2 separate regions of the Homo sapiens genome follow, and region 1 is linked to region 2. Evidence: fine-mapped expression QTL. A gene starts in region 2. The other region holds a variant in brackets. All regions are shown on one strand. Distances are from middle to middle.

Evidence for each region. PIP is the estimated chance that this variant, and not a neighbour inherited with it, causes the effect.
Region 1: its variant is the best candidate, but not a certain one, in a credible set for the expression of KIRREL3 in nasal epithelium (TOPMed, PIP 0.67).

Annotation. Positions count from the first base shown.
Region 1 is chr11:126,467,139-126,471,522 of GRCh38, reverse strand. The region is part of intron 5 of KIRREL3 (kirre like nephrin family adhesion molecule 3); the gene reads left to right. Among named protein-coding and RNA genes, the nearest start is that of KIRREL3-AS1, 74 kb to the left of the region's middle. RefSeq lists an enhancer at 4,132-4,384. The variant A/G (reference allele first, on the strand shown) is at 1,759.
Region 2 is chr11:126,998,426-127,002,809 of GRCh38, reverse strand. It overlaps KIRREL3 (kirre like nephrin family adhesion molecule 3), which reads left to right and starts at 2,040. Exons shown (of 17, transcript NM_032531.4): 1 at 2,040-2,355. The coding sequence starts at 2,301.

The DNA.
Region 1 (4,384 bases), 530 kb after region 2:
CTGTGCCCACACTCTCCCCACACCTCCCACCCCAGCCCCAACTGACCCTGGGGCCTCCCCTTCCTCTGGGAACTATGAGTAGCAAACTGTCTTTTCTTTTTTTCTTTCTTTTTTTATTTTTTATTTATTTTATTTATTTATTTATTTATTTTGAGACAGAGTTTCACTCTTGTTGCCCAGACTGGAGTGCAATGGCGTGATCTCAGCTCACCGCAACCTCCACCTCCTGGGCTCAAGTGATTCTCCTGCCTCAGCCTCCAGAATAGCTGGGATTGCAGGCGTGTGCCATCATGCCCAGCTAATTTTTTTTTCTTTTTTTGTATTTTTAAAAGAGACGGGGTTACTCCATGTTGGTCAGGCTGGTCTCAAACTCCCGACCTCAGGTGATCCACCTGCCTCAGCCTCCCAAAGTGCTGGGATTACAGGACTGAGCCACTGCGCCCGGCCGCAAACTGTCTTTTCAACGGCAGTTGTCTCCTGATCTGTTGGCCTCCCTCTACCTGAATAAAAACAAAATTCTGGGTACATTTTTAAACAGCCCCCACCAAACTCCACTCAACAAAACTGTGCATAGAGTCCCAGATGGGGTTAATGTACCACAGAGCCTCTAAGATGAATGAGGCCTTACAGTATACCTGGGCCAACCTCTTTTGTCTGCAGCTAGAAAATTGAGGCCTGGTGGGGAAGTGACTGTCCTTCTCAGTGGTGGAGTGGGCAGTGCCAGGCCTGGAACCACAATTCCTGACACCCTGGCCTCTGCCCTTGCCCATGCTCCTCCTAGGGCAAGCCGGTCCCCCAAGCTCCGCAGCTGGGGGCCCAGCCTCCAGAACGCCCGCTCGCCTCAGGTCTGAGGGTTTTCCTTGTCCTCAGAGACTGGGGAAATACACGGCCTGGTTCCCCCTACCCACCAGTCCTCTAAGCAATCCTGGAAAGATAAGCAGGGCCTTGGTCATCCGAGGATGTGAGGCAGGCCCGTCCCCACTCTGAGGGTGTGTCTTTCCTGTCCCAAACTGACCACCTGCCAAGAGGTCACTCCAGGGCTGCCGATCAAAGAACCCAGCACCTGGTGCCAGAACCCAGGGCAAACTCCTTCCCTCAGACACAAGTCCAGGGGGAGGGAGGGATGGCTGCCTCTTGGAAGACAAGCCTCTCCCTTATGTCCTGGGCTGAAGCCACCCTGTCCTGTTATGTAATACAAGGATATAACACAGAGAGAGAGTTGTCCAGAGGAGAATGAAAAGGAAGGATAGGGGCTTTCCTTCCAGTCTGAGCACCTGTCCTGTCCCTCCCTGAACTTGGGCCAGCCTGGACCCTAGCAGAGTCAATGTCCTGCAGAGGACACATGCCATCAGGTGGAGAGAGAGGTCAGGGTCACTCTGCTGGACCTGTCCCAGGATCACCTTGAGCTCAACATGTCATCCTTGTCTACATTGTGAAGGCCCCTCGGAGAGCCTGGTACCATACTACTGCACAGCAGGGCGGGGGACCCGATCCATGCTCCTGGGCCTGTGACGGGAACGGCAGCGCCAGGCAGTCGCAGGCCTGGGTTCCAGCTTCCACTGCATAACCTCAGGCAACTCACTCCCTGGGCATCTGTTTCCTCGTCTGCAAAATGAAGGTGTTGGATCAGACGCTCCGGAAGAGAAACAGATTCCTCAGGGGACAGTCACCTCAGATGGTCTCCTGCCCCTCTGTGGCTTGTCCAGGGAGCAGCAGAGGCCTGAGACCCTCAATGTGTCCCTGGACATGAGCATGGGA[A/G]GAGGCCCTGTGTCCCAAGGCAAGGCACTTCATTTCTCTGGGCCTCTCCTCCAAACCATGGTCATCCACCATCCTAACTGTCCACCCCACGGCCAGTGGTTCTCATGGAGACCAAAGGGGTGACCAGCAGAGCCCGCACACGTCAGTGGAGCTTCCCCAGGCACGGGGCTGTGTGCCGGGCAGGGAGAAGCTACAAGCCTGTGATGTGGAGTATACCCAGTAGGTTACACAATCCAGGGCTCCTATGGAGCAGGCTCTGGGGGCTGTCCGAGCCAACCCCTCTGCTTCCCCTCCCAGGGACCCAGCCCACCCCCTCCTCCCCCAGGGCTGCAAGGAGCCCTGCCATAGGCCAACAGCACTCCTGACTTCCCCAGAGAGGCTACATATGAGGAGGGGCCAGAGCATCAGCCGCAGAGAGGAAGAGAAGCTGGGAGCACACACAAAATCAGGCAGCCTCCAAGGACCCCAGAAAAGACCCCTCAGGGCAGCCCTGGCTGCTGTCGGGTCTGACGCCCTCAGTGGCTGTCACATGGTGGATGATTATCCCCGTGGGCTCAGGAGCTGGCAGCCTGAATTTGGATCCGGGCTCTGCCACCTTCCAGCTGCGTGACCTCACCTTGCCGTGCCTCCCTGTCCTTGCCATACAATGGGAACGACAGCAGCACCCACTTTAAGGGGTGCTTGTGAGGAGTTGAATGAGAAACACGCCTGGCACATAGCGAGCTTGCAACAAGCACTGCTGTTGGGATTGTCACCCCCTCACTGGATCCACACGGCTGCAAGGTCCACCCCACTATGGACCTCGCGTTTCCCATATGCAGACATCGGTGTCATAGTTAGGCTGGCCACATGGTTCTGAAGGCCTAGCTCAAACCTGGGATCCGTAACATAACATGGTGATGTCACCCTCTGCCTCAGTTTCCCCAGCTGCAAAATGCAGTGATAATGATCACGGATGTCTGTTAGGGTTGCAGAGTGACTTACAAGAAATTATGCATCAGAAGCACCCTGTCAAGGGCAGGAGTAAGGACTGGATAAATGTGAGCTACTATTATTGGCTCCTGTCCCACAGGGGGAACCCCAGTTCCCTGCCCCAGGGGTCATACAGCTATTTCATAAAACACCAGGCCTGTTCTCAAAGTTTCTGGGTTGCTCACCGACCATTCTCTCTGTGACTCCACCATGGGACCAGTAGGGGAGGGATGAGCCTCAGCCCTGGAGGGCACCAGGCCCCTTCCCCAGGAGGAAGGGCAGGAGAGGAAGCACCCAGTCCCTCCCCCAGCACAGGCTGGCCATGCTTCTCCTTAACAGGCCACTGTCACAGCCTCCAGGGTGCAGGGCGAGCCACACTGCCGGATGGGGCCTTGGGCAGTGCCCACTGCAGGCTCCCAGCGGGTGTCGGCTGCAGAGGCACAGAGCAGGAAAAGGCCCCTCCAAGCTTCTTCCTGGAGACTCAACCCTGGGCTGTCTGGGGACAGTGGGTTCCTTCCCTGTTCCTCATACTTCTGAGGGCCTGGCGCCAGAGTGGAGACCACATTCTTTCTTCTGGAAAGCCCCCAAGTCCACACAGCAGGGGAGGAAGGATGGGTTACGGAAGAGGAGGGGCGAGAGGACAGGCTGAGCCCAGAAAGAACCCTTCCTAAGTGCAGCTTCCTGCCAGGCAGGAGGGTTGCAAGGTCTTAGCACGCACAGTCGTGTCTGTGTCTGCTTGGAGCCCCTTGCCCTCTACCCCTACCACCAGGACCACTGGCCTCGCCTTTTACCACCTTTGCTAAGAGGAGCTCTGGAGACCCCACTCAGGAAAGGGATAAGTGCCCACATGCATAGGGCCCTCACCCTCCACTGGGCACCCCCTCCCTGGTCACTCACCCATCACCCTGCACCTATCTGCCCAGCTTAGGGGCCTAGAGTCTCCACTGGGTGTGGCCGAGGCTCATCCTGGCCTTCTCTGTGAAGGGCACCCCTCTGGCCTCTGGCCTCAAGGCTGGATGCAGGGACTGGGGCAAAAAGCACTGCGCATCCTCCACCTGGCCCACACACCCTTATTCAAGCCAGGTGGCAACCAGCCCATGGGGAGCCCCAAGCAGCTATCAAAAGGGGAAGCAGAGCCATGATTTTTTAAAAAAAAAAAAAAAGGGACCCAGCAGGTGGGGAAGGTGAGTAGCGGGGAGAAGCGAGGCGGCCTTGCTGCCAGGCAATCAGGCTACTCTCGGCCTTTCCAGACGGTTTGCCTGTCATCGGGCACCCCATATTTAGCACCAGTGCTTGGGCCCCCACCCCTTGTCTGCCCTCCAGCCCACCCATTTCCGAGAGCTCAGCCTGGCTCTCCACTGCCCAGAGGAGGCCCTGGGGGCTTTGGAAAGAGCAGAGTGGCCAGCCACTGCCACCCAAGCAGGAAAACCATGGGGTGGGGTACACTGTGTACAACCATACCTGGGAAGACCGGCCTCCCAGGCCGGTGCTGGGGAACTAGAGAAGTGAGTGCCAAATCCCTGCCCTTAGGGAGGGGCAGTGGGGGTGGGTGCACAGCCCTGAGGCGGCACCTGAGCAGGCAGCGTCCAGAGAGAACCTGGGGCCCCGCAGAGTCACGGCAGTCAGTGGACAGAGGCCCATGAACACCCAAAGA
Region 2 (4,384 bases):
CTGAATTAAGCAAATCTGGGCCCTGGGCCATTGAGGAATTAGCACTCAAAATTAAACAACAGCTTAAAGGATAAATCTTTAGTTAAAACGTCAAATGTTGCTACCTTTGATAGAGAATCTGCATTCTAGTATTTGTCCTATTCCCTGCAAGAATGGCACGCAGACACCTGAAATTTCTCCCCAACAACCCCATAGGCTTAATGCAAAGCTACTACTAAGGTGACGGCGCTATACATAGAGTTATTTTCAGTCTTACTGTGTTATTTGGCATATGTTATTTAAAATTATTTTTCATCTCCTCTGTGTGTTTTTGATTTGCCTCTTCCATTTATTGCATGATCTGTTACACCAGGCTAATGGACTCAGGCTCAGCTGACACTGCTTCAGTAACTTGTTTGTTAATTTAGCTAATGGGCTGCCTCTTTTGTGTCCTTTTAGTTTCTGTTGCTCAACATTTCTGTTTCTCCTCCCAAAGTTTGCTTACAAATTTCCCTTTGCTGTGTTTAACAGCCTCTAAGGGATGCAGTTAAATAAACTATTAAGTTAAGAATAGAAAAGTCAACAAAGCAGACACCTACTAATTTGTAGATCTTTGGTGTCAACTACCAGATGTCAGCTCCTACTAGCACACTTCTATATGCCCCTGCTTCTTTCTTTCTTGTTCACAAATACCAAGGGATAATTTTTTAAAGTTAACATCCGCATGGAAACTTGGAGTTGGAATGTGCCTTGTAGTGAGCAGAGTCCTCAAAAGATGTGCTACTACTGAAAGAGGAAAGGCTAAGAGTTTCCCAAAAGACCTCCCCAAGGTCCAGGGACTGAAGACAGTAATGACTGATTTTAGAATTGAATGCTAAATGGCACATGTCAGGGGAGCGTCTTTCATTTTCCTCTCCTCTCTCTTTACCTCTCCTTCTCACAGTGCATAACGTTGAATATTTTTCTGTGTTGTTTTGTTATGTCCTTAGAGTTTGCATCTTGTGTGTGTACTCTGCTTGCACACTAGATTATGAGCTTCTGAAGGCATGGTCTGTGCCTATTATTTTGCTTCCCTCCATGGCCTGCTTATACCAAGCATGCCTAAATGTCTATTAAGTAAATAGACCCAGATAAATTCATGTTGATATCCTGGAGGAAACCGAGTTTGATTTGAGTGTGGAGTGTGAATTTCATGACAGGTAAAAGGCTTGAAGATCCTTAGGACGCAGTTGTCTATGACCTTGGCCTCTCCTTTGCAATTGGACTCACAGCACCTCTTGGAGAAAAGACAGGCTCAGAGTGATGGAGCGCTCATTAGAGGAGAGGCTCTGAATGCAAAGACAGGCTGCTCCCCTGTCCTCGTTAGGAAATGCACAAACCAGGATAATGATAATAAATGGGTGTGTGTCACAAGCCTACTTGCCTTCCCTTTAGTTCCTGCATTTTGTCTTCCAGGAGCAGTGCAAAGCAAACTAAGATCCAAATGTTCAGGTTTTATTACCTACCCCCCCCCCCCACCACAACCACCCACCCACCCACAGGAAACTCTCAGAAATGCAAAGCATGCTTATCTCTTCTCCAACTCCGAGCCTCCCGCTGCACACATTGGCCAAGTCCTTCCGAGGGAAAGATGCGCACCCCCCCTTCCTAGTTCCCTTTCAGCCCAGTTTCCAGTTCCTTTGCAAAGGCAGGGCGTGCATGTTTTTGTGCACATGCATGTGGATAGTCATCCTTAACTTCACTGTTAAACAGGACATCGTGTGGACAAAAAGTCACAGCTCCACTCCAAGCTCAAGATGCCTTTTGGTCAATAATGGTGACAAAAGCTGAATTTTTCCCTATTTAGGGAAAAGAAAGAACACAGCCTTTTCCCCCACTGTCCGTTTTGCATAGATCTCCTTTTTCCGAGTGTTTCCTCTTTAATTATGACCTGTCTCCCCTCCCTCTCCCCTCGCCTCAGCTTCAGTGAAAGGAGTCCTTCTGTCACTCGTCACTAGCTCGCTCGCTCACTGTGGGAGGAGCCCGCCTGAGGAAGCCGTGTGCCTGGGATGCCAAGAGCCAGAGAATGGATCTTCTCCGAGTGGGGACATTGCTGACAATCCCGGCTTCCCGAGGCGGCTAAGAACAGGCAGTTTGTGTCGGCTGGCTGCAGATACCCAGAGGCACAAAGAGACCGAAGCCACCCGGAGGGACCCACGGACGGACAGATGGTAGGCGCGAACCCGAGAGGACCGGCGGAGGCTGAGCACCGAGAGCCGCCAAGGAAGAGAAACTAACCACAGCCAAGTTACCCCGCCGGCTTTCCTTCGCTGCGCTAAGGAATGAAACCCTTCCAGCTCGATCTGCTCTTCGTCTGCTTCTTCCTCTTCAGTCAAGGTAGGACCCCTGCGCTGCTGGAGTTGGAAGAAAGTCGGCTGGGTTGTCAGGGCGCGGGAGGCTGTGGGCAGGAACGTGGGCAGGCTTCGGGAACTCGGACTGATGGATGCGTCTCTCGGTGCCGGGCTGAGATGCTCTGGCATTGCCTCTTCGCCTTTGCGAATGCAACAAAATGGTACTGTTTATTTTCCTTTGGAAAGAAGGGGTATGGGAGGGGAGGGGAATGACTTTCTCCTCTCACTTGTCAATATCCAGCTCAAACTCTCCAATGCAAATGAGTTCTTTATGCTTCTGGTATGTTAATTAGGTAGTATCTCTGTGGTTATGCCGCTCTGAACTTCTGGGCACCTCCTCTCCTTCAGACCCAGGCCAGGGAAGGAGACGGCAGGGAGGGAGAGCTTGGTTTAGGTGGATATTTCAGCTTGAATAGGGTTTGACTTGCACAAGTGTATTCAAAAGCGAATGTGTGTGGTTTGCACCGTTGAAAAGGGGGTTGCAATTACAGAATGTATTGTGGGGGGTAATTTGCAGTGGTTGGGAAAAGCTTGTAAAGAGTTTCATTGAACGTCATCGAGTTCCCTAAATTAGGTTGAATTCTGAATCCTACACAGCACTGAATTCAGGGTATAAAATGAAATTTCGCCCGTGGTGCTGATGGTTTCCTTTCTGCAGCCTAGCAGGGGCAGAGAAGCAGGTGGACTCTCCGGAAAGAACTTTGCCACCTCTAGGCTCCTTGCCACTGGGAGCCCTGGGGCTGGTAGTGGTGCAGAAAGGAGAGGGAAATTCGGGAGAGGGAATGTGAGTGCCTAGTTGGCCAAAGGCATCAAAAGTCACCTGTGGAATTGAGTTTGGAGGGGCAAGTACATGGGCTCCTTCCCGCTCTTTTGGAATGCCAATGCACCTCTGCCATCTGAGGCTGCATTTGTGCCAGCCAACACAGCTCTTAGAGGTGCAAGACTCAGAAAAAATCCACAACAGAGCACGTCCATCTGTTGATTAAATGAAGGGTAAAAGTTTTCGAGAAAGCAAAGCACTGCCATGGGTGGCTGGCTTTGCAAGCAAACAGCATGTCTTCTGTTTCTCCCCTGTCGGGGAGAAGCCAAATATAAGCAAAAACCTGGCTTCCTTCTTCTGCTCTTCCACCCGTGCTTGTGGTCACTGCAGACTTTCTCCTTATCTGTGCAGTTCAAACTTTGCTTCTGGTCCTCCTGATGAAACCGAAGGGGCTCCTTCTTCATATTTGTATGTGCATACTAATGCCTGTGTATAATGATAATGTATGTACACACACACACACACACACACTCATGTATTCATATGGTTGTGTGCTTCTCACCAAGGCTCCCTACAGCAGCAGGAAGATAAATTGCCTTCCCCAGAGTTTCAGGCTGAATGAATAAGAACTCTCTCAGAACACTGGTATAGAGACAGGTTCAGTTATATTACCATTTGGTAAGATTACCCTCTTTCTTGGATGTGTATGTGCTTGCTTATGAGCACACACACACACACACACACACACACACACACACACACACTCCCATTCGTCTTTGCTTCTTACCAGTTCACTCAGGAAGTTTTGATATAGAACCCCTGAGAAGGAGGGAATCTTCCAACCAACCCCCCGTAAACACACAAACTCACATTTGCATGGGACCAGTGCATGCTTTAATCAGCCTTTTGTGTAGTTAGAAGCTTGATCCGTGATACTTATGTAGATTGGCATAAGAAGGCTATAGGTGTCTAAGTACCTCCCTGGCCGTCTGAATCATTACAGTGTACATCTTCTGTTGTGCTTATTTCTTTCTTGGTCTGGAGCTGTTTCTTGACTGCTTCATGTGAATCTTTAAATATTTACCTATGGAGGTTAAATGCTCTGTTTTATCTACCCCGAGTCCTGAGAGCGCTAGGAAGAAACCATAACATCATGCAGTTCTTAATGCCTTGTGCTCCTGGAGTGTTCTGAGCTTGGCCATCACTGTCCACCCTACCAAATGGTAGATACCTGGTCCAGAGGCTGGAAAACAGG